Homo sapiens: one gene and its partners. The protein of the gene in region 6 purifies or fractionates together with the protein of the main gene of each other region. This does not show direct contact. Each region holds a gene or a part of one and is shown on either strand. Other genes may lie near its edges. The genes, in order: HADHA, HIGD1A, HADHB, AMBRA1, POLD3, ATAD3A and SLC25A33.

Region 1 (3,500 bases), on a different chromosome or scaffold from region 6:
GAGTAGCTAGCACTACAGGTGAACATCACCATACCCAACTATTTTTTATTTTTTATAGAGACAAGGTCTTGCTATGTTGCCCAGGGTGGTCTCAAACTCCTGGGCTGAAGTGATCCTCCTGCCTCGGCCATCCAGTGTTGGGATTATAGGTGTGAGCCACAGTGCCCAGCCTGGCTACAAGATTTTTAAAGTAAGAATACACCAAATTTAGATGGGGGAAAAGCATGGACTCTCACAATAAAGCTCTTCTTGGCAAAAGAATGGATTACTGTTACACACTTTATTGAAGCTGCCAAAAACAAAAGAAGTTTCAATTCGAACAGAACTTGATTTCCAATATGTGAATTGCATTGAGTCATTCAGATCCCTCAGGAAGCTTAAGAGCCAAGTATCCACATTTCACTCAGCCAACTTACTATGAATAGTGACTTATGTCAGGCAAGTAATGAAGAAAATGGATTAACAACCTCATATTTAAGATGGGTAGGCAAATTTTGAGTCTTATAAACAAAGCTTGTACTCTGGTTCTTCTCTAATAAGTCACCTCCTCATTCTACACTATAACCAGGAGGCTGGTGGCACCTAAGGTCAACAAGAGGAATTCTTACGCAAGAACCTCTGCTTTAGAAAACTGGCTCCCTTGGCAATCTGTCAAAGTTTAACATAACTGTCAAAACTGTAAATTCATGTAAGATTACTGCCAGATTGGTAGATTTGGGGAAATATGGGATACATCTTTCCCATTCAGGACTAGATTCATAATGCGGTTAGCAGAAAAAAACTGCAAATTAAATGAGATACCTTTGAATTGGGAGAGTTAATTCGAACAACTGCCACATCCCCTTTGACTCCATAGTTAATATGGGTTCTGGCTAAAAAGAAAAGAAAGATTTATTTGTAAACATATTTATTGCAACATAAATCCAAAAAGCAATGTAAGCATACACATTAAAAAGAAATTAAACTTACTCAGCAAAGCAGAAGACCCTGTAAAATTGCGGCATATATAACCTGTAAGAAAAGACATTTCAAAATTAATTTGCGAAACAATTTCTGTAGTACCTTTTATATATAACAAAGCTGTAATTTACAATAATAACAACAACAAAAACCCCAAATCTGTACAATGTATTCTAGGCCATATGACTACTGCCATATTTTTTCCATTTCAGTTGTTAGGTCAGATGATTATTTGGATACTAAAAGAGGAAGACTGGCCCCCACAAAGGGATATACATCCCCAGAACCTGTGAATATGTTAGGTTACACGGCAAAGGGGGGATTAAAGTTGCTAATCAGTTGGCCTTAATAAAGAAAGTTTATCATGGATTATCCAGGTGGGCCCAGTGTAATCACAAAAGGGAAGAGGGAAGCAAAGAGAACCAAAGAGATAGCAATGTAAGAGGCACATGGGAACTACTGACTGGAGAACCCAGTGAAGGTGGAGTGGAATAGGGGAGGATCATCAGTAGGTTGCCAAGGCTCTTGCTGCCTCCGTATTTTCTCTTTATCCCCCAGTTCCTTATGGAAAGGGAAGAGAAGGCACAAAAAATAGCAGCTTTATACTGGTTGGAAAGGCAAGGTGACACATTAAAAAAAAAAAAAGAAAGAAAACTGTGGTTAGCACCAGAAGCAGAATGGGGTGATTTCAGGTTCTGCCTGCATTTCTTCTTTAAGCAATCCAAGCCAGCCGACTTAGTGCAAAGGCAAAGGACTTGTGTTCAACCATCAGGTTTATTTACTAGCTGTGTGACTGTGAACAAGTCTCTTACAAGTGAACTTCAGTGTTTTAAGATGGGAGAAGCCAGCCATCTCCTCAATCCCCAGTGCCTCTACTTGACTAATAGTATGTTTCCTGCTTTGCTTTTCCATCATTTGAAATCTGTGTCATCTGTATTTACCACTCTTCCTTCTTTATATTTGCATCATGACTCCACTCTTTTCCACAAAACCTCATCTTCGGATTCTGTCTACAGTGATCCTTCCTTTCCTTGCCTGCATTTTTATTTTATTATTTAATGTTCTGTCCTCTAACTGCTGCATCTGTAGCAGGTGTTTCACCAACCACATTGTAATCTTTTCCAACATAATCTGTTATTCATTCAACAAAAACATATATTGTGACCTCCATGTGCCATTCACTGTTCTAGGCACTTGGAGTACAGCAGGACATTCAGGGTGAACAAAAAAGACAAAAATCCCTGTCTTGGTGGAGCTTACATTCCAGGTCAGCAGGGGATATGATATCTGGGAAGAATCAGTTCCTACTCAGTGAAGATAAATGAAAAGTGAAAATAGGCCTGGCATAGAAAAAGTTTTCCTGCAAAGTAGAAATTCCAGTGGGAAGGGAAGAAGGGGATAGGTAATTCTAGCAAAACAGGGTAAAGTGGATTAGAGTGGGAATGAACTGATTGGGAATGCAGGTTGAGAGGGAAAAACCAAGAAACACAAATATGTTAGAAAATAAGCACCTAAGCAAAAAAAGGAAATAGAGTGAGCATGGGTTGCAATATTTCAAAAACATTTTTTTTCTTTGAGACGAGGTCTCCCTATGTTGCCCAGGCTGGTCTTGAACTCCTGGGCTCAAGTAATCTTCCGGAGTAGCTAGGATTACAGGCATGTGCCACTATGCCCCACTGGGTTGCAGTTTTAAAGATCAAATATTTGAGATAACAGGTTAGTGGTCATTAGCCAACAGTTTAAACCATTTTAACTCCTGTCCACTAACCTACCTATGCTGCCCACACACTCATACACAAAACCTCTCCAAGATCAAGACAAATAGAAACAAATAGAAAACCAGTATATACATGAACATACTTCGAAAATAATTCCAAACCAGAGTCAACCAAATCAAGTCACACTGCAAGGTAGCTTTGCTTTTGGAGTCTAGCCTTACTCACTACCTAACTGCAGAGCTTACCCTATGGCAGCTGAGTGAACTTTAGCCTACATCTACTGTGCCAGCAAAGTAGAGAGAAACCTTTGCCCCACTTTTTAATCATCTTTGTAATGTAACCCAAGAATAACTACAAAACCTCATAAGACTACAGTCAGCGAAGAGAGCTGGATTATGCTAACATAAATTTCAAATTTGAAAACATTACTTTGGTTGTAATAATCAACAGCTTTTCTCAAGATTCAACACTGGGAGAAGCGACGAGATTAAGGAAGTGAGAATCAAATTTAAAAATACACAATCTATGGCCGGGCGCGGTGGCTCACGCCTGTAATCCCAGCACTTTGGGAGGCTGAGGTGGCTGGATCACCTGAGGTCGGGAGTTAGAGACCAGCCTGGCTGACATGGCGAAACCCCGTCTCTACTAAAAATACAACAACAACAACAAAAAAAAAAAAACAAAAAAAAAGTTAGCTGGGCGTGGTGGCAGGAGCCTGTAATCCCAGCTACTCTGGAGGCTGAGACAGGAGAATCACTTGAACCCGGGAGGCGGAGGTTGCAGTGAGCCAAGAGCGCACCATTGCACTCCAGGCTGGGTGAC
Region 2 (3,500 bases), on a different chromosome or scaffold from region 6:
CCGGGCGGCTGGCCGGGCGGGGGGCTGACCCCCCCACCTCCCTCCCGGATGGCACGGCTGGCCGGGCGGGGGGCTGACCCCCCACCTCCCTCCCGGATGGGGCGGCTGGCCGGGCGGGGGGCTGACCCCCCCTCACCTCCCTCCCGGACGGGGTGGCTGCCGGGCGGAGATGCTCCTCACTTCCCAGATGGGGTGGCTGCTGGGCGGAGAGGCTCCTCACTTCTCAGACGGGGCAGCTGCCGGGCGGAGGGGCTCCTCACTTCTCAGACGGGGTGGTTGCCAGGCAGAGGGTCTCCTCACTTCTCAGACGGGGCGGCCGGGCAGAGACGCTCCTCACCTCCCAGACGGGGTCTCGGCCGGGCAGAGGCGCTCCTCACATCCCAGATGGGGCGGTGGGGCAGAGGCGCTCCCCACATCTCAGACGATGGGCGGCCGGGCAGAGACGCTCCTCACTTCCTAGATGTGATGGCGGCTGGGAAGAGGCGCTCCTCACTTCCTAGATGGGATGGCGGCCGGGCGGAGACGCTCCTCACTTCCCAGACTGGGCGGCCGGGCAGAGGGGCTCCTCACATCCCAGACGATGGGCGGCCAGGCAGAGACACTCCTCACTTCCCAGACGGGGTGGCGGCCGGGCAGAGGCTGCAATCTCGGCACTTTGGGAGGCCAAGGCAGGCGGCTGGGAGGTGGAGGTTGTAGTGAGCCGAGATCACGCCACTGCACTCCAGCCTGGGCACCACTGAGCACTGAGTGAACGAGACTCCGTCTGCAATCCCGGCACCTCGGGAGGCCGAGGTTGGCGGATCACTCGCGGTTAGGGGCTGGAGACCGGCCCGGCCAACACAGCGAAACCCCGTCTCCACCAAAACCAGTCAGGCGTGGCGGCGCGTGCCTGCAATCGCAGGCACTCGGCAGGCTGAGGCAGGAGAATCAGGCAGGGAGGTTGCAGTGAGCCGAGATGGCAGCAGTACAGTCCAGCTTCGGCTCCGCATGAGAGGGAGACCGTGGGGAGAGGGAGACGGAGACGGAGACGGAGACGGAGACGGAGAAGGAGGGAGAGGGAGAGGGAGACGGAGAGGGAGACGGAGAGGGAGAGGGAGAGGGAGAGGGACGGAAGTTATAAGATTCTAACCCTCCCTAAAATGCTCCTAAGATCAGTGCTTGAGATATTTTGCAGACCCTGCACTTGATAGACCAACTGGCACCACCCAGATCAATAAACTGGCTCGTCTGATCTTATGTCCCCTACCTAGGAACTGACTCAGCACAAGAGGACAGCTTCAACTTCCCATTTCATCTCCAACCCAACCAATCAGCACTCTGTTCTCTGGCCTTCCCCCACCCACCAAATTATCCTTAAAAACTGATCCCTGAATGCTCCAAGAGACTGATTTGACTAATAATAAAAATCCTGGTCTCCCACACAGCTGGCTTTGGGTGAATTGCTCTTTCTCTATTGCAATTCCCCTGTCTTGGTAAATCAGCTCTGTCTAGCCAGCGGGCAAGGTGAACCTGTTTGGCGGTTACATGATTTCTCTTTTTTTTTTAAAAAAAAAAACAACAACTAATTTTTGAACGATTAATTACTTTAGTGTTTATATTGTATTATTCAGATATATAGTGAGTATCTTGAACCTTGAGCTTATTGAACCTTATATATAATAAAGCTCATTACTTAGGAGTTTATTCAGTTAAGAAGTAATGGAGTACAAAAAGAAGGTTTAAGTCCAATCTAAATTTTCTTTTATTTAGCTAAGATTTTCTTCTATGTCAGATGACAGTTGAGTCTTCTCAATGAAGGTGAGGCTTATAGGGATGAATTCACTTTCTAAACTAAGCACACCACCCCCTCCGGAGTTGCATTTTTGTTGAGGACCTTAACTGCCACTGACTCCCCTTGAGTAGCAAGGTGTTGAATGAGAGGTACTTTTATCAAAGGGAGCATAATGCACATGAAAAACCCAGAAGTGAAAGTAAGATTTTATATGGGTGTTAGGATGGGCATAGACTTTTAAGTTTATTGTAATTGACACTAATTAGAGACTTGTATGCTTACACTATGCTTCAGGCCCTTATTTTATCTGTGAGTAAAGTTTATTGCAATTCAAAATAGTTCAGTGAAGAAAGTATACTTTGTTATTGTGGCTAAAATGAAATAGCATTTGTTAATGCCTCATTGTGATAAAAGGGCTATTCACGGAGATGACTGAAAAGGAGGAAAGGAGCCTTTGATCCCTGTGATAATGAAAATGAATCCTTTTTTTTTTTTTCCTATCCCCTTACTCATACACTATCAGGCTAGATCTTGCCTTTGGGATACCATTTAAAGGAATTATAAAAAGAGGGTAGAGTTTTAAAAGGAAGCCTAGGGGATATAAGGTATGTAAATGAAGGCAGATCTGAAGCTTAGAAGATATTAAGAAGACCCTGAGGGTAATTCAGTTTTGTGCTGCAGTGATGTTAAAAGGTGCTAATCATAGGGCCAGGTGTGGTAGCTCATGCCTGTAATCCCAACACTGGGAGGCAGGTGGATCACCTGAGGTCAGGAGTTCGAGACCAGCCTGGTCAAGATGGTGAAACCCCATCTCTACTAAAAATACAAAAAAAATTAGCCAGGCATGGTGGCAGGCACTTCTAATCCCAGGTATTTGGGAGGCTGAGGCAGGAGAATCACTTGAACCTGGGAGGCAGAGGTTGCAGTGAACCAAGACTACGCCATTGCACTCCAGCCTGGGCAACAAGAACGAAACTCCATCTCAAAAAAAAAAAAAAAAGCTAATCATAAGCTGGCACAGTGGCTCACACCTGTAATCCCAGCAGTTTGGGAGGCTGAGGTGGGTGGATCACGTGAGGTCAGGAGTGAAACCCTGTCTCTACTAAAGAATACAAAAAAATTAGGCACGGTGGTGTGTGCCAAATGGAGGTTGCAGTGAGCCGAGATCGTGCCACTGCACTCCACCCTGGGCAACAGAGCAAGACTCAGTCTCAAAAAAGAAAAAAAACTAATCATAGGTCATTAAAAAAATCTAAAAGGCTATGAAGGAGACATTTCTACCAATATTTAAAATAAAAGCTTTGTTCTTAAAATGAGTAAATAATGAGCTAGGTAGAAACTTTGGCTATTCAGAATAATCTTTTCCCCAGAGGCAACCACCATGGATAACAGATTACTGTAATAGACTGGAAACTAATCTGAAGTGAAAATTGAAGCAAGGAAGCACATTGGAATAAATAAATCAGCAGTTGAAAGCAATAAAGACTGCATTTAACTACACCGAAAAGTGCTAAGTAGGATTTCCAACATGATATTGAAGGTTCAATAGGAGTTGTCAGTTTGGTTTGAGTAACTTAAAATTGTCAAGTTAAATAGTTGATTAAGGATGAAGATAGCCAGAAAATTAGTAGCTACTATTTTAATTGATAAAAGTAACATCAATTTAAAATTTTTCACTATTTTTAATTAACATGGTGCTAAAAATGAATGGGTTGTACAGGGGAAACGG
Region 3 (3,500 bases), on a different chromosome or scaffold from region 6:
CAAACAAATCATCTCTGATTTCTTTATTTTATTACCAAAGCTCACCTCTCTATTTTTTTACCTAGGGATTTTATGTATGTGTCTCAGGATCCAAAAGATCAACTATTACTTGGGTAGGTAGCAGTTTGTATCCTTGGACTATAATCACAAGTATTTGATTGCCTATGTTTTATTATACTGGTTAATAAATGATTAACACTGGTTTATTATTTATTTGTTTATTACACTGGTTTGAGAGTATATTAAGCCCTGAGTTCATAATTGGTTTATGTGGTGGTTTTTTTAAAAAAAATAATAGTAATCTGGCCGGGCACGGTGGCTCACGCCTGTAATCCCAGCACTTTGGGAGGCCGAGGTGGGCAGACCACGAGGTCAGGAGATTGAGACCATCCTGGCTAACACGGTGAAGCCCTATCTCTACTAAAAATACAAAAAATTAGCCAGGCGTGGTGGCGGGCGCCTGTAGTCCCAGCTACTCGGGAGGTTTTGGCAAGAGAATGGCATGAACCCGAGAGGCAGAGCTTGCAGTGAGCCAAGATCACGCCACTGCACTCCAGCCTGGGCGACAGAGCGAGACTCCATCTCAAAAAAATAAATAAATAAATAAAATAGTAGTAATCCTTTCCATTGGTATATCATGTTACAGTTTTGGATTATTTTCCATTTTTTTCCTATAAGTTTTACATATATATATGGACACACACAACTTATATTCTTTTTCATTAAGATAGCATATGCATTTTTTCATATGGCTACACACCCTGCTACACAATCTTCCTAATATAGCCTTTTATAAAAGCCTCCCCATGTTTAGACTCTGTTCCGTTCCCTCACAAGGCTGTAGCCTCTAGCCTCCACTGTGACGTTCACATCAGTCAAGCCCTTTCCCTTGCCTTGCTCTTTGAACTCTGTTCTTCCAGTTCTTCATGTTATTAGCTTGTCCTTATCCCTCACTGTTTATTTATTATCAATTTCTCTGACTCTGCAACATAAGAGTAGAGGGCATGTCTGTACAGTTTCACTATTTTATCTTTAACATTTCATTAATCAGTACAGAAAAATCAAAGAATGAGTGAAAAGACATTAGAGTACCTATGTAAAACTCAGTTTGGGGAATATGAAGGAGCTCTTAGTTTAAAAATTAAAGTTTTAAGATATTACTTATTTTTTCTTTGCAGACCAACATATGCTACTCCAAAAGTTCTAGAAAAGGCAGGATTGACCATGAATGATATTGATGCTTTTGAATTTCATGAAGCTTTCTCGGTAAGTAATTTGAAAGACACATATGAAGGGACTATAGTCATAAAAAATGTCATCCATATTTGTGGGAGAGAGCAAGGCATGGTTTATGATGTGAGTAGAGCAGGAGTGGACCTGCATATTTTAAGTACTGATTCACACTGCTGGGAGGGGCCCGAGGGGAGGGAAGCAAGGGCCACACATACAGTGTTGGAGAACATACCAAATTGCTTCTTTAGGAAATTGCCATTGAAAACTGATACAAAGATTTGTTCAACTTTACTTTTTTTTTTTTTTTTGGAGACAGAGTCTTGCTCTGTTGCCCCAGCTGGAGTGTAGTGGCACGATCTCGGCTCACTGCAACCTCCGCCTTCCAGGTTCAAGCAATTTTCTTGTCTCAGCCTCCCGAGTAGCTGGGACAAGCAGGCGCCTGCCACCATGCCCGACTAATTTTTTTTATATTTTTAATAGAGACAGGGTTTCACCATATTGGTCAGGCTGGTCTTGAACTCCTGACCTCAGATGATCCACCCGCCTTGGCCTCCCAAAGTGCTGGGATTACAGATGTGAGCCACTGTGCCTGGCCGATTTGTTCAACTTTAAACCATACCTAAAGTTGTTAAACTTTCACAAACCATTCCTATAAGAAAGCGTAGAGGAACATGAATAACGAGGTTCTTATTCGATTATTTTCTCTTCCAGGGTCAGATTTTGGCAAATTTTAAAGCCATGGATTCTGATTGGTTTGCAGAAAACTACATGGGTAGAAAAACCAAGGTGAGTTTCTAATTTTAAAAAATGCGTGAATTTTCAAAGCACGTTAATAATTGGATCTTAGTTACCTGTTCTTAAGAATATGAAGGGAAAGCTTCTCTTTCTTTTGAAGAATTTTGTCTTTCATTAAAGATATTTATTTCTTAGTGTAAAAGTAGAAATTCTTGTATTTCATTAAATATATTTATTTCTTAGTTTAAAAATAGAAATTATTTAGCAAAAATAAAATTCTGTGTTTTTTGTTCCTTGCATTCTGACATTAGATGAAAAATAAATGGACTCCTGACTTTTAATATTGACCTAGACTTACTTTCTTTTGCAGTAAAATTATTTGTAATATGTCTGACGTTACGTATTTTCCTCTATCTCTCTTACTTCGTAGTACTAAGAGCCTAGCTTGATTCTGATCTTAAGTAAACTTATCTTTACATTTGTGTCTTTGGGGGAGCCAGGTTGGATTGCCTCCTTTGGAGAAGTTTAATAACTGGGGTGGATCTCTGTCCCTGGGACACCCATTTGGAGCCACTGGCTGCAGGTTGGTCATGGCTGCTGCCAACAGATTACGGAAAGAAGGAGGCCAGTATGGCTTAGTGGCTGCGTGTGCAGCTGGAGGGCAGGTACGTTACAGTGGTGTCATAGGACCCTCCAGAGAGTCATTTTCTTGGAATGACTAGAATGTATGATTTAGTTTGAAACCTTCTTAAAGCAATATTTTTGATGACCTGGGGGTGGGGAGTGGGGAGGGATAACAGCTGTAATTCTGATAAAACTTTTTGTTTTTTGGGTTTTTTTTTTTTTTTTTTGAGACAGTCTTGCTCTGTCACCCAGGTTGGAATGCAGTGGTAATATCTTAGCTCACTGCAACCTCCACTTCCCGGATTCAGGTGATTCTCGTGCCTCAGCCTCCCGAGCAGTTGAGATTACAGGTGTGCACCACCATGTCCAGTTAATTTTTGTATTTTTAGTAGAGACAGAGTTTCGCCATGTTGGCCAGGCTAGTCTCGAATTGCCGACTTCAAGTGATCCACCCTCCTTGGCCTCCCAAAGTGCTGTGATTACAGGCATGAGCCACCATGCCCTGCCATAATTCTGATAATTCTTTGGAAGGAAACAGCTATTTAAACCCAAGCTATTTTTCCCCAATATAATGTTTATTTTTTACTTATAAATATATGCTGATTATGAAAATTGTGGAATATATGAAAAGTATATAGAAAAAGTTAGAATCATCTATAATCTCCCCATCAGACATTAACATTATTAACATCTTGATATATTTTCTTCTTTAATAATTAACTTTTATTTATCTAGTCACCATAAGACTTTATAAAATCTCTCCAAGAGAGAAACTATCTTTCTAGAGAACTGAATTATACCTTAACTGGGGAGTTAATTTACTTCTGGATAACTTACTGCTGTTCAGCTGGGGAAATATATTGTTGACAGATTTTTTCCTTTCTACTTCACTTGCATTAGAGACCCAA
Region 4 (3,500 bases), on a different chromosome or scaffold from region 6:
CTTCCAAGGTGACAGCCAGTAGAATGTTCTCTATCACGTCAGTCCTGTGCCAGACAATGCAGATGGGGCAGCGCACTCACCGGACCCGTTCCATCTCACTAGCTGTCTTCACCACAGCAAAGGGTTCCCGTCGACTCCAGTCCCAGAAGTGGATCTCATTGGCAGTGGCAATCAGCAGGAGCTGAGCCGTAGGGTGGAAAGCCAGGGAGGCAATGGCATTGTTGCTATCTGTGAACCAGCTTTCACTGCCACCCTGTGAATGAACCAATTCCAGATATTCTCAGGTTACAAGCTACCAGCACACTGGGAAGTCAATTTCAAGAAAGGTCCATTTAAGGTAAAATGACTATGTCTAGGGACTACTTTAAATACATCCTCTGTAAAAAGATGTAGAAGATCAGCGATCTGGTAGTGCCACTAATTTATCAGATAAATACTATACAATCAGTTCAGTTCTTCAAATTAGTCACAATCTACAAGCATTAAGCATATATACACAGTTCCTATTTCTTTTTTTTTTTTTTTTTTTTGACAGGGGGTTTCATTCTGTCACCCAGGCTGGAGTGCAGTGGCACAATCTCAGCACACTGCAACCTCTGCCTCCTAGGCTCAAGCAATCCTCGCACCTCAGCCTCCCAAGTAGCTGGGACCACAGGCGCATGGCACCATGCTCAGCTAATTTTATATAATTTTGTGTATAATATTTTTGGTATAATATCCTGCCCAGGCTGGTCTCAAACTCCTGAACTCAAGCAATCCTCCTGTCTTGGTCTCCTGAAGTGCTAGGAATACAGGCGTGAGCCACCGCGCCCAGCCCACAGTTCCATGCAAAGCCTGAGAAAAACTCAAGCTCGGTGCACAACATGGTGCAAGACAACCCGCTAGCCAGTTACTAGGACAAAGAGGATCTTGCTTTGATGATCATGATCGGAGTACAGGAATATCTGTACTTAGGCAAAGATGCCCTAAGACAACAGAAATCCAACCTGAACATATCTTAGAGCCTCCTGTACTATGTCACAACGGGCTGAAGGAAGCAAAAGTAGATGTTCATCTTAGCAAGAATGGAAGACAATCTCAGGGCATGCTTAAGCTATTGCAAAAAAAAAAAAAAGGAATGGAAGACAGGGAATTAGACTTCCTATTAATTAAGTGGGCAATGTCTACAACAATATATTCAGATGTAGTCCTAAGAATCTGGCTAGGCTCTTCCAGAATTAAAAAACCAATGGTAAACAAGTCTCTGCATTTAGAATACCAAAAGAAGCCGGGCATGGTGGCTCATGCCTGTAATCCCAGCACTTTGGGAGGCCGAGGCAGGCAGACCACTTGAGGTCAGGAGTTCAAGATCAGCCTGGCCAACATAGTGAATCCCCGTCTCTACTAAAAACACAAAAATGAGCCAGGCATGATGGCACATGCCTGTAATCCCAGCTACTTGGGAGGCTGAAGCAGAAGTATCACTTGAACCTGGGAGACGGAGGTTGCAGCGAGCCAAGATCACACCACTGGGCAACAGAGCGAGACTCCGTCTCAAAAAAAAAAAATTAGAACACCAAAAGAAAAGGGTATCTTAAGGAAATACTCACGTGTAAATCCCAAATCCTAACCTCCCCATCTAGGCAGCCAGAAGCAATAAGGCCTGAGATGGTGGGATGAAAAGTGACACACCATGGAGTACGGCGGTGTCCAATCAGGGAATGAACACACTTGCCAGTCTTCACCTCCGTAATATAGATATTATGGTTCACATGGGTGGAGGCTAAGAGAGTCCTAGAAAATCAAAGAGTAGAACTGAATTCAGAAGCATGTGGAAGGGTAACCAATCTTATCAACTTTGGACGACATAGAATATTGATGCTACCTGCCAATCCCAACATGAAAGAAACTAAGCTTTGTATGTTAGGCAGTATATCTACAAACAGAAATATTCTGATCTTTAAAAGCTTTTGGCTTGTCCACACTGTCCCCAAATGACACATGCCACATTCGGAAAATATTTTTTCCCACTGGAAAAACCATCATACCACTGGTGAGCTGTATCACACAGGCAAATGATTGTTATTGAGAAACTTTCCAAGTTTTGATCCTCTCAGTTTCCTTTGCTTGTTCTCATGATTTTTCAGGTTAGCACTGCTCATCTACTTTCTTTCCCTTTCCGACACGGGGCCAAAGTGCTGTTCATACAGTACTTCAGAGAGACTTTAGGGACTGACTTGGAAGATCAAGCCAGGCCAAATATACAGAAAGCACTGTTATCACAAATCTTAAGTTATAGATAAATACTGAGTACCTGTCTGGGCTGAAGGCCAATAAGAAGGTAGAGCGTGGACTATCCGGCAGTTCTACTCTCTGGGAGACAAAAAAAAAAAAAAAGTTAAAATACATGATTTGTAGACCATGGTTCACCGTATCTCAAAAGCACATTAACCATTCTAGATTAGCATTCACAGTGTAGGCTTAAAAACTGGAGACAATGATCAAGCTACAAATTGAGAGAGATAAACCTAAATTACCTTCAGGAAAACTGTCTAGCTCTAAAGGAAAAAGATATTTCTAGCACATTAGTTCTTTCAAATTTACAAACAACTCCCTAAGTCAGATATGTCAACTCTCCCACACAAGATAAATATATCCCAACTCTCTGCTGTTAACCCATTCTAAGGTCTCATTCTACCATCACCAGCACAAATCCTATGTGAAATATAGCCATTTTCCTTACCTTGCCCTCCCATTTCATCCACCGGGTTTTATCTTCTACCAGCTCCTGCAGAAGCCGCTGAGCTCCCATGGCCCGAGCACCCCGTTCTCGCCCCCAGAGTATCCGGACAGCATTCTTTTCTGGGACAACCTTCATGGCGCTCAGTAGCCACTGTCACACCAGGCCCAGGAAATGAAGGAGCAAGTAACAGCTCCAACACACTGAAGCAGCTAAAATGAGGCCATACAGGTCCTTGTAAGTTGTCCTCATGGAAATCTTAAGGAACAAAGAATAATGTCAAAGAACGACTTCTGCAACGAGAAGCTTCTAATTGCAAATACAATTCTAGCTCAAAAGGGAAATTATACTTTTCCTATTTAATGACACTTTCTCAGAAAAGACCCTTCCTCCCAGAATTTTTCTTCCAAAAATATTTCATACTCTCATATTCTCCATAGCTCAACCTTGTAGCTAAAGAAAGGATCAGGCCAAGCACAGTGGCTCACGCCTGTAATCCCCGAACTTTGGGAAGCCAAGGAGATTGGATTGCTTGAGGTCAGGAGTTTGAGACAGCCTGGCCAACATGGTGAAACCCCGTCTCTACTAAAATACAAAAATTAGCCGGGTGTGGTGGCAGGCACCTGTAATCCCAGCTACTCATCAGACTGAAGCAGGAGAATTGCTTGAACCCAGGACGCAGAAGTTGCAGAGAGCTGAGATAGTGCCATTGCACTCCAGTGCCTGGGCGACAGAGCAAGACTCCATCTCAAAAAAAAAAAGATTATTTAGGAGTACCTTT
Region 5 (3,500 bases), on a different chromosome or scaffold from region 6:
CCTCTCTGGGATGCTCACGTGTCTTACTCCTACCCATTCTAAAGAGCCACTAAAACCCACGGAAGGACATTGTACCTCTCACAGGATATCACAGGCTGTAATTCTAAACACATAGCATGAATGGTAGAATCTAAATCCACAGAAGTGTCAAAGATGCTACACCTTTATCACAGATTCAGCTTCCTGCTACTATTTCTTGGGTCTGTTCATTTCTTTTGCATTACTGTCAACTGTATATATAATTTGTTTTTTTTTCACTCACTTGTATAGTTGAGCTAATATCCTTTTTTCGGAAGCCTCTCTTACCATTTTCAATTCCTCTTAGAGTAGTTTCTGGAAAAAGCAGAATCTTACAAGTTTCAGAATCTTACAAGTTTGTCCTTTGATAGCTCAGTAGGTTCCTTTTTTGCATTCATTATTCTTCTTTACTCTCCCTTTTAGTATCTGTTCGTGTTTGTCTCTGTATCTTTATGTGATGCTGAAATCCTTTGGACTAGATTTCCCCTCATTACTTAAAATGTTTTATACCCATTATGCCATGAATTCATGGACAATTGATTAGAGCAGTTCAAACTTTTCACCACTGTGTCTCAAAGTGGGCTTTTCAAGGTAGAGTCGTCCAGCATATCAGTTCAACCCATTTAACTTTCTTTTTAGCCTCCTTCTTTTTCTATATACTTTATACAATTTGGGGCAAGATCTTGGCTCTTCAAAATACTTGATATTTTTTTAAAAGCATATTAATGTTCCCGGTAAAACTCTTGCCCTTATGAGGTTTGCTTATCTTACAACATTGCCCACAGCCTAAAACTAGAAGGGTCCACAGTGTCATTCCCTTCTAACAATGACACTGTAGGTTGTTCCAGTTAACCCTAGTTTTACCTGTGTGGACCACCACCAGTAATACCCTGGCTGCCTAGAACGTCACAATTTTTAAAAGATTCACATGAAGGTAGCTAAAGGAATATCCTCCCCTTAAAAGTAAAAAAAAAAAAGAAAAGAAAAGAAAAAGTCTTAGATAATATGTATAATAATAATTCTTATCCTCTTTCCTTCTGTGTTATTTTGACAAATTTCCAAAAGATCATGGTTCTAGTCAAAAGGCTAATGCAGATTTCAAACAGAAAGAGGTGCTATGGTGTCTCTTAATGCTAGAATTACTACTCTCATTGTGATCCTTAATCCATTACTTTTTTAGCTCCTTGAACATTGAAAGTAAAATTGATCCCCCTAACCCAAAATGAATGGTAATGCCCACCTTCATCTTCACTGCTATCAGATTCAGGAAGTTTGATTCTTCTCCTCTTTTTCCTCATGTTTTCAGTTTCCTTTGTCTCATCATCAGATAATGCTACTCGCTTCCCCCTGTTGCCATCCAGAAATAAATTAAGCGTGTTACACAGAACAAAAATGTAAGTATTCACATGCTCTTATGGGTTTTGCTTTATAACTCGTGGTCTTAATTCCAGAGGGTAGAAAAGGACGGCCAAATAGTCCAAGAAGGACTCTTGTTAAGGATACTCTGCTAACTGACCACAACTAAGTCACTTCATGAGGTGACTTGAATAAAAAAGTTCTAGAGTTCTCTAGAGACTGCTGGAAGCTACAACCAGGTTATCAAGAATCTTTCCAAATTCCTTCTTACTTCCCTGATTGGCCTTTCAATTATCCAACAAGCATTAAATAAGCAGCTACTACATACATACAAGGCTCTTTGCTAGCCATTGAGAATGCAACAATACAGAAGAAAATACTGTTTTCAAGAAGCTCTGGCAAACACCACTGGCTATAAGGCAATGTGGTAGATTTAACTGGACAAATAAAATGTTATGGAATATAATTCATATTTGGAAAACTTAAAAGCTAAGTAGAAGTTCATCATGTAGAAAGGGGAAACATATTTTAAAGAGAAAGAACAATATGAGCAAAGGCAGAGATATCCTTTTAAGGTGATTCTAATGACATAATAATAATAAAAAAAATCCTAGACTCCATCATGACATTATTTAGCTCCTCTGGATGAATGGATACTCCATCACACTCCTCATGCAACCAACAAGTAATTTATCAAAGGCCTACTGAATGTTAGAGAAACAAATATATACAAGACATAATCTTTGCCATCAAGTACCTTATGTCCTATATAACTTTAAATACCAACTTTCCTTTCTACCTTGAACTAGAAAAAGAACAATTAAACCCAAAGTAAAAGGAAACAATAAAGATAAGAGCAGAAATCAGTGAGATAAAAAATAAGAGAAAATTAACAAAGCCAAAGTTGTTATTTTTGGGAGATTAATTTTATTAATAAGCCTTTTATAAAACCCATTTTGAAAACAGAAAAATATAAATTATCAATCAGGAATGAAACAGTAAAGAAATCTGTATCGAGTACAGGTTCTACAAACTCGAAGAATAAAGTTATATAATGAACGGGTTTATGCCAATAAACTCAACAATTTAGATCAAATTTTGACTGAGTTTTAAAAACACAACTCAGTCAAAACTGATCCAAGAAGAACTAGAGAATTTGAACAGCTCTAGTTAAATCAAATTCACAATAAAAACCTTTCCCACAAATAAAATCCAGCCCTGGATTCACTGGTAAATTTTATTAAACATTTGAAAAATATACACGTATATATAAACTCCTTCAGAAAACAGAGGAAACTTCTCCCAACTGCGGTCATGGATCACTTAATGACAGGGACATATTTTGAGAAATGCATTGTTAGGTGACTTCACTGTGTGAACATCACAGAGTATACTCACACAAACCTAGATGGTATAGTCTATGCTCCTAGGCTACAAACCTGTACATCATTGTTACTGTACTCAATACTGTAGGCAACTGTAACACAACGGTATTTGTGTATTTAAACATCTAAAAAGAGAAAAGATACAGTAAAAATACTGTATAAAAAAGATTAAAAATGGTACACATGTATAGGGCACTTACCACGAATGGGGCTTTCAGTACTGAAAGTTGCTCTGGCTGAGTCAGTGAGTGAGCGGTGAGTGAAATGTGAAGGCCCTAGGATGTTACTGTACACTACTGTAGACTTTATCAACACTGGATACTCAGGCAACACTAAATTTATTTTAAAATGTTTTTCTTTCTTCAATAATAAACAGCTTACTTTAACTGTATTTTCAATTTTATAACTTTTTGGCTCTTTTGTAATAACACAGCTTAAAACACAAAAAATTGTACAGCTGTACAAAAATATTTTCTTCTTTATATCCCTATTCTATAGGCCTTTTTCTATTTTAAAAATTTTTTATTTACTTTTTAAACTTTTTTTGTTGAAAGCTAAGACCCAAACACACATTAGCCTCGGCCTACACAGGGTCAGGATCATCAATGATCATTGTCTTCCACCTCCACATTTTGTCCCACTGGAAGGTCTTCTTCAGGGGCAGTAACACACATGAAGCTGTCATCTCTTATGATAACAATGCCTTCTTTTGAAATATCTCCTAAGGGCTGCCTGAGGCTA
Region 6 (3,500 bases):
GCCGGAAGACAGGCAGCGAGGCCGACACCCACGCCAAACATCCTCTTTGGAGGGGCTCTCTACTTCTGACAGCCCAGCTCCACATCCTCCCTGCTGCAGGCCAGGCCCGGACTGAGCAGGGAGTGGCTGCAGGGCCTGGAGATGGCCCCAACCACTCCTCACACCAGCCCTGCCCACAGCTGCTCACTCAGCACCCGCAGGGCAGGTGGCCTTTATGCTGGCAGTGGCGGAGCCCCGACTTCTAGCAAAAGCGTCTGCCTGGAGGCCACAGAAGCCAAGTCATGGTGCCAGGGCTACGAGCAGCCATGGGGGTGGGGGAGCCCAGGGAAGGGGAGGGCATAGGGAAACTGAGGCCCGGAAAGCTGGGCTGGCATGGAGCAGGCGGCAGCGGCAACCAGGCTCTCTTTTGTCATCACTGGCGACAGCAGGGATTTGGGTCAGGTGCACAGAAGGACTCAGAAACCGGGGCCCGGGGGACGCCAAGAAGTGGAGCAGCCTCTGCTCATCTGGAGTGTTCCCGAGGCAGCCGGTGTGTGGTGCCAGGGCCCCTCATCACCTGGAGGGCTCTGCCCACCGTGCCTGCTGCACCCACCGCCAGCAACAGGGAGCCTGACAGCCTCAAGGCACGTGAGCAGCAAGAGCCGTGCCCCACACCACGAGGCTCCAGGGCCGGGTGTGGCAGCTGGAGGGAGGCCAGGCCAGAAGCCAGCAGTGGACCATGAGGAGCCTCTCCCTCCAGTCCCGACACGGGGGTCTCATGAGGAGAGACTCCTTCGAATCCCGACACGGGGGTCTCAGAGCAACACTCCGTATCACCTCCCCTCACAGCCAGGGCCTGGGGGTGGCCGAGCACAAGATTTCCTCACAGCCCTCCTCGTAGTGAAGAGGAATGGAAAAGACGCCGGGCGCGGTGGCTCACATCTGTAATCCCTGCACTTTGGGAGGCTGAGGAGAGTGAATCACTTGAGGTCAGGAGTTTGAGACGAACCTGGCCAACATGGTAAAACCCCATTTCTACTAAAAATTAAAAAAAAATTAGCCAGGCATGGTGGTGGGCGCCTGTAATCTCAGCTACTCAGGAGGCTGAGGCAAGAGGATTGTTTGAACCCGGGAGGCAGAGGTTGCAGTCAGCTGAGATCGTGTCACTGCACTCCAGCCTGGGCGACAAGAATGAGACTTTGTCTCAAAAAAAAAAAAAAAAAAGGAATGTTAAAGGTTTGTAAGTGATGGTGGACTGTGGGTCGGGGTGGACCCTGAGCGAGGGCCCCTGGACGGGGGCTGGTGGGGCGGGACACTTACTGCTTTCCTTCTGTGGCCGGCTTAAGAACATACTTGTCAAAATACATTCTCACCAGGCGCTCCCGTTCCTCCTGCCCTGGCAGGTCGAAGTGGACCATCTCATTGATGCGGTCATTGATGGCCCAGTCGAACTGCTCTGGTTGGTTGCTGGCCAGGACCAGCATGAACCTGCGGGGCGGGGATGAGGATGAGGATGCTGGGGCTGCCGGCCGAGCTGCACCAAGGGGAACGGGGCCTCCTCAGCCCCCACAGGGAGAACCTAAAGTGGCGGGAAACACGAGGACACGGGCACAGCCCTGGTCGGCCACCTGCCCCACTGCACCCAGCTGTCCCCCGGCCTGGCTTCCTGGGCCTCTGTTCTCCCTCCATATAGTGCTTTCCCGCTGACCCTCGCCCAGCCTGATAGGCAGTGCCGGGAACACCACTCTCTCCTGCTGCCTGACCCCTGCTGTGCTGGGAGCAGGGATTCGGGACCCGGAGTCCATGTCGAGAAGTCGCCCACACGTGCCAGGAGCAGGACCTCAGGGGCCCGGGTTCACTGGAGGCTCAGCAGGGCCCCAGCCTTGCCTCTCTGGGAAGGACCCGAGTCAGGGCTCCAGGGAGCATCCACCGGCAGCAGCTGACCTGGGAGCCCAACGTGCCTGAGGAGTCAGCCACGGCCGACCAGCAGGACTTGATCCTCCGTGTGACACGTGACTGGGGCTGGAGGGGCCCAGGAGACCAAGAAAACTCAAAATTAGGGGACTTGGGAGGGACTAGGGAGCCTGGCCATGGGGCGGTCACCCTATGGGGGACCTCTGGGCGGCAGCCCACAGAGGCCACACAAAGTCGGGTGGGCCCCAAGCCTGGAGGGTGCACCCTTGGCCAGCATCCGGGCGGGGGACCAAGGTCCCAGGTTCCGCCCCGACACACAGGACCTGCTGGTGTCCAACTTCCCGTGGGAGCAAACTTGTCTCCATCTCCCACCCCAGGGCACACACACCCTCCAAGGGAGACCCAGCAGAGCCTCACACGATGAGACCACCTCCCTTGCAGGCACAGGACCGCAGAAACCTAGGGGCAGAGGGACCTGCAAGCTGGGGCGGCGGCGCACAGGGCCGTGAGGACAGGACTGACCCCAGCTCTGCCCGGGAGGCCCCCGCATGTTCCTCAGTGACACCCCGTGCTGTCCCGAGCTGGGCCGTTCCCAGGGGACATCCGAGGTGGGCATGTTGAGGCCACGGCAGCTGCCCAGCACTGTGAGCCAGGGCCCCTCAGGTCCCTCGGTGGGAACCAAGGGCGACGGCTGCACAGCCCTGCCCGGGGGCCCAGGACCCGAGGGGCTCCCTCACTTGTTGCTGTGCTGGCCCGTGCGGTACAGGAAGGCGTTCAGTGTGGCCCTGAGGTCCTCGCTTATCTTCTCCTGCAGAGAGAAGGTTCCAGCCTTAGGCACCAGGAGCAAAGCCTTGTAAACAGCCACAGCAGAAAGTCCCACAGGCCTCCCTCCTGCAGGGAGCAGGGACATGGCGACACTTTCATGGATCTACTCTCAAAAGCCTGACCAGGGCCAGGGGCGGTGGCTCACGAATGTAACCTGGATTTTGGGAGGCTGAGGCGGGCAGATCACACGAGGTAAGGAGTTTGAGACCATCCTGGCCAACATGGTGAGACCCCGTCTCTACTAAAAATACAAAAATTAGCCAGGCGTGGTGGCGCACCTGTAGTCCCAGCTACGTGGGAGGCTGAGGCACGAGAATCACTGAAACCTGGGAGGCAGAGGTTGTAGTGAGCTGAAATTGCACCGCTGCACTCCAGCGTGGGCAACAGAGTAAAATTCTGCCTTAAAAAAAAAAAAAAGAAAAAGAAAAGAAAGCCTGACCGGGCACGGGGGCTCACATCTGTAATCCCAGCACTTCAGAACGTCAAGGGAGGCAAATCTCTTTAGCTCAGAAGTTTGAGCCCAGTCTGGGCAACGTGAGGAAACTCCATCTCTACTAAAATTACAAAAAAATTAGACAGGTATTCCACTGTGCCCCTGCAGTCCCAGCTACTCAGGCGGCTGAGGCAGGAGGATTGCTTGAGCTCCAGAGGTCGAGGCAACAGTGAGCTGTGATCGCCCCTGCACTCCAGCCTGGGCGACAGAGACCCTGTCTTAGAATGATAATTAAAAGGCTGGGCGTGGTGGCTCACGCCTGTAATCCCAGCACTTTGGGAGGCCAAGG
Region 7 (3,500 bases), 8.0 Mb from region 6:
TGGAGTGCAATGGCAAGATCTCCGCTCACTGCAACCTCTGCCTCAGCCTCCTGAGTAGCTGGGATTACAGGCATGCACCACCATGCCCGGCTAATTTTTGTATTTTTAGTAGAGATGGGGTTTTGCCTTGTTGGCCTGGCTGGTCTCGAACTCCTGACCTCAGGTGATCCACCTGCCTCGGCCTCCCAAAGTGCTGAGGTTCAACTAATTTTATTAACCTTTATTGTGTTCTAGTTTTGTTTTTTTTTTTTTTTTTTTTTTTTGGGTTTTTTTTTTGTTTGAGACGGAGTCTTGCTCTGTCACTCAGGCTGGAGTGCAGTGGCACAATCGGCTCACTGCAGCCTCTGCCTCCTGGGTTCACGCCATTCTCCTGCCTCAGCCTCCCGAGTAGCTGGGACTACAGGCGCCTGCCACCACGCCCAGCTAATTTTTTTCTTTTTTTGTATTTTTAGTAGAGACAGGGTTTCACTGTGTTAGCCAGGATGGTCTCGATCTGCTGACCTCGTGATCCACCCACCTCAGCCTCCCAAAGTGCTGGGATTACAGGCGTGAGCCACCGCGCCCGGCACGTTCTAGTTTTAAAGAGAGAAAAGCTAAGCTTAGCATTCCATTGTGTAGGGAATAGTATAGCTTCTCTGATCTGCTTTGGTTTCCCTTACAGGTGTGGAGGCACAGTTGGTGCTATTTTCACTTGTCCACTAGAAGTCATTAAGACACGGTTGCAGTCTTCAAGATTAGCTCTCCGGACAGTCTACTATCCTCAGGTTCATCTGGGGACCATTAGTGGAGCTGGAATGGTGAGACCAACATCCGTGACACCTGGACTCTTTCAGGTTCTGAAGTAAGTTCAGTCTTGTCTGCTCCTGCCACCTGCACACCCTGTACCGCCACTGTCAACAGAGAATGTTCATCAAGCTTATCAAATGTGATGTTCTGTTTGCATAGCCTTGGTCCTAACTTAAGAATTAGATTTCTTTACCAATACCTTTGAGCTCTGACCTTGCTCCCCTGGCAGCGGGGGGTCCCAGTGTACATGTGACCATCATCCAGGGCAGTTAAAGTAAACCTAGCAAAGCAAACCAAAAATCCACGTGTAAATTGTTGCATCACATCATTGCTCTTGCTCAAAGCTTTTGAGGGAAATGAAGATAAGAGGTGATAGAGTAAAATTTTAAAAATTGCACAACAGAAGAGTTGTGAATATTTTATTTTATTTTATTTATTTACTTTTTTTGAGACAGAAGAATCTCGCTCTGTCACCCAAGCTGGAGTGCAATGGTGCGATCTTGGCTCGCTGCAGGTGATCTGCCCACCTTGGCCTCCCAAAGTGCTGGTATTACAGGCGTGAGCCACCGCTCCCAGCCGTGAATATTTTTAAAAGAAACAAAATGTTTGTTTGTTTGTTTGTTTTTGAGCTGGAGTTTTGCTCTCGTTGCCCAAACTGGAGTGCAATGGCACAATCTCAGCTCACCGCAACCTCTGCCTCCTGGATTCAAGCGATTCTCCTGCCTCAGCCTCCTGAGTAGCTGGGATTACAGACATGCGCCACCATGCCCGGCTAATTTTGTATTTTTCATAGAGATGGAGTTTCTCCATGTTGGCCAGGCTGGTCCCAAACTCCCAACCTCAGGTGATCCGCCTGCCTCAGCCTCCCAAAGTGCTGGGATTACAGGCGTGAGCCACCACACCAGCTTTTTTTTTGCTTTTTATTGGGAAATATTTTTAAATGTGTAGAAAAGTTATGTTTAATAAAATGGGCTTTAAAATTTGTTTTATACCTGAGCTACCTGCCCATTTTATTATTTTTACTGTAGAAAAAATAATTCATTTGCTTATAAAGTAGCCAAATATTCTTAAGTCAAATTTGGCTTATCAGTCTATGCATAAGGTAAAATCAAATTCAGAAGAGAACTGATTGAATATCTGATTTTTAGCTCAGGACCTTGTACTTTGAGATGCTCTATAATTAATAGTTGAATTTAACTGAGCATGATATTCAAATCTTTGAAACTGATTCTTGGGCAAGAGTATGTTCAAGAAAGACATTCATCAAGAAAGCTATCAGTGTAGAGATTTATTTGGGAAATGTTAGAAAAAGAAGTAATAAAATGGAGATGCTCTGTTTTAAAAACAACGCATTTAGCACTTTTTTTTTTTTTTTTTTTTTTTTTGAGATGGAGTCTCACTCTGTCGCCCAGGCTGGAGTGCAGTGGTGCGATCTCCACTTACTGCAAGCTCCGCCTCCTGGGTTCACGCCATTCTCCTGCCTCAGCCTCCTGAGTAGCTGGGACTGCAGGTGCCCGCCATCACACCCAGCTAATTTTTTTGTATTTTTAGTAGAGACGGGGTTTCACCATGTTAGCCAGGATGGTCTCGATTTCCTGACCTCGTGATCCGCCCACCTTGACCTCCCAAAGTGTTGGGATTACAGGCGTGAGCCACCGCACCCAGCCACATTTAGCACTTTTAGGCACAATTTAGATAAGGCAGGATGAGTTGGAGAGTGCTTAGTTTATTTTTAGGTATGTTTTATTTGTAAAACCCAACTATGAGTCACTGGGGCATTCATGCCAAATGTGTGCAAAGGTACATCTGAGCTTACTGAGCGAAACTGAACAGCAAGACCAGATGCCAGGGACAAGTGAGAGCATCAGAAGCCCAGCGAGGGAACAGGGAGATTGGTGTCCAAGACTCCAGGAGAAATTGGGGTTTTTGTTTGTTTGTTTGTTTTCTTTTTTGAGACAGATTCTCACTCTGTCACCCAAGCTGGAGTGCAGTGGTACGATCTCTGCTCACTGAGACCTCTGCCTCCTCGGTTCAAGCGATTCTTCTGCCTCAGCTTCCCGAGTAGCTGGGATCACAGGCATGCACCACGATGCCTGGCTAATTTTTGTATTTTTGGTAGAGACAGAGTTTTACCATGTTGGCCAGGCTGGCCTTGAACTCCTGACCTCAGGAGATCTGCCTGCCTTGGCCTCCCGAAGTACTGGGATTATGGGCATGAGCCACTGTGTCTGGGTGAGAATCAGGTTTTTAAATTAAATGCTAAGAAAAGGAGTGGAGACACTGGGCAGGAAAGTTGGGGGTGGGTACAGGAGGGACAGAAGCACAGAGATGTGGAGGGACACTTTGCTCTCAGGACAGATCCGAGTCCATGGCCCCCATCAAGATGGGACTGTGAGAACACTCCTCCTGCTTTGCCTTTTCACATGCTTAGGCGGTGCCAGTGTCCCGGGTGACACCTTTCTTCTAAGGAACATGCAGTGCTTTGGACATAAGGAAACTGAAGACAGGTAATGTTACTTCAGTAACATTCAAAATGAATTTCCTCTTGCCAAATAATCATGACTAGTGAATTTGGATTTACTGTAACTGGGGAACTGTTACCCAAAAGTGTGGGTGTCAATAGGGCCAACCTGGAAGGTAAATGGGAATGTTTCTCCATTTTAGGTTTTACAGGATATGTGGGTTGAGTGTCCCTTATCTGAAATGCTTGGGAC

Evidence for each region.
Region 1: the proteins of ATAD3A (region 6) and HADHA purify together in Homo sapiens (tandem affinity purification; one large-scale study listed by IntAct). This does not show direct contact.
Region 2: the proteins of ATAD3A (region 6) and HIGD1A purify together in Homo sapiens (tandem affinity purification; one large-scale study listed by IntAct). This does not show direct contact.
Region 3: the proteins of ATAD3A (region 6) and HADHB purify together in Homo sapiens (tandem affinity purification; one large-scale study listed by IntAct). This does not show direct contact.
Region 4: the proteins of ATAD3A (region 6) and AMBRA1 purify together in Homo sapiens (affinity purification with western blotting; 2 studies listed by BioGRID, with this or other methods). This does not show direct contact.
Region 5: the proteins of ATAD3A (region 6) and POLD3 purify together in Homo sapiens (tandem affinity purification; one large-scale study listed by IntAct). This does not show direct contact.
Region 7: the proteins of ATAD3A (region 6) and SLC25A33 purify together in Homo sapiens (tandem affinity purification; one large-scale study listed by IntAct). This does not show direct contact.

The regions. Positions count from the first base shown.
Region 1 is NC_000002.12:26,238,133-26,241,632, forward strand, and holds part of HADHA (trifunctional enzyme subunit alpha, mitochondrial precursor), read right to left. Parts: intron 1,012-3,500; coding exon 970-1,011; intron 873-969; coding exon 802-872; intron 1-801. UniProt on the Homo sapiens protein: Mitochondrial trifunctional enzyme catalyzes the last three of the four reactions of the mitochondrial beta-oxidation pathway.
Region 2 is NC_000003.12:42,794,491-42,797,990, reverse strand, and holds part of HIGD1A (HIG1 domain family member 1A, mitochondrial), read left to right. Parts: intron 1-3,500. UniProt on the Homo sapiens protein: Proposed subunit of cytochrome c oxidase (COX, complex IV), which is the terminal component of the mitochondrial respiratory chain that catalyzes the reduction of oxygen to water. May play a role in the assembly of respiratory supercomplexes.
Region 3 is NC_000002.12:26,282,939-26,286,438, forward strand, and holds part of HADHB (trifunctional enzyme subunit beta, mitochondrial isoform 1 precursor), read left to right. Parts: intron 1-65; coding exon 66-113; intron 114-1,178; coding exon 1,179-1,266; intron 1,267-1,944; coding exon 1,945-2,019; intron 2,020-2,468; coding exon 2,469-2,633; intron 2,634-3,500. UniProt on the Homo sapiens protein: Mitochondrial trifunctional enzyme catalyzes the last three of the four reactions of the mitochondrial beta-oxidation pathway.
Region 4 is NC_000011.10:46,545,524-46,549,023, forward strand, and holds part of AMBRA1 (activating molecule in BECN1-regulated autophagy protein 1), read right to left. Parts: intron 2,978-3,500; 5' UTR 2,858-2,977; coding exon 2,723-2,857; intron 2,353-2,722; coding exon 2,294-2,352; intron 1,774-2,293; coding exon 1,590-1,773; intron 254-1,589; coding exon 81-253; intron 1-80. UniProt on the Homo sapiens protein: Substrate-recognition component of a DCX (DDB1-CUL4-X-box) E3 ubiquitin-protein ligase complex involved in cell cycle control and autophagy.
Region 5 is NC_000011.10:74,627,082-74,630,581, reverse strand, and holds part of POLD3 (DNA polymerase delta subunit 3), read right to left. Parts: intron 1,368-3,500; coding exon of another isoform or gene 1,366-1,367; coding exon 1,259-1,365; intron 1-1,258. UniProt on the Homo sapiens protein: Accessory component of both the DNA polymerase delta complex and the DNA polymerase zeta complex.
Region 6 is NC_000001.11:1,525,662-1,529,161, reverse strand, and holds part of ATAD3A (ATPase family AAA domain-containing protein 3A), read right to left. Parts: intron 2,702-3,500; coding exon 2,631-2,701; intron 2,002-2,630; coding exon of another isoform or gene 1,887-2,001; exon of another isoform or gene 1,480-1,886; intron 1,468-1,479; coding exon 1,300-1,467; intron 1-1,299. UniProt on the Homo sapiens protein: Essential for mitochondrial network organization, mitochondrial metabolism and cell growth at organism and cellular level. May play an important role in mitochondrial protein synthesis. May also participate in mitochondrial DNA replication.
Region 7 is NC_000001.11:9,552,965-9,556,464, forward strand, and holds part of SLC25A33 (solute carrier family 25 member 33), read left to right. Parts: intron 1-661; coding exon 662-841; intron 842-3,500. UniProt on the Homo sapiens protein: Mitochondrial transporter that imports/exports pyrimidine nucleotides into and from mitochondria. Selectively transports uridine, thymidine, guanosine, cytosine and inosine (deoxy)nucleoside di- and triphosphates by an antiport mechanism.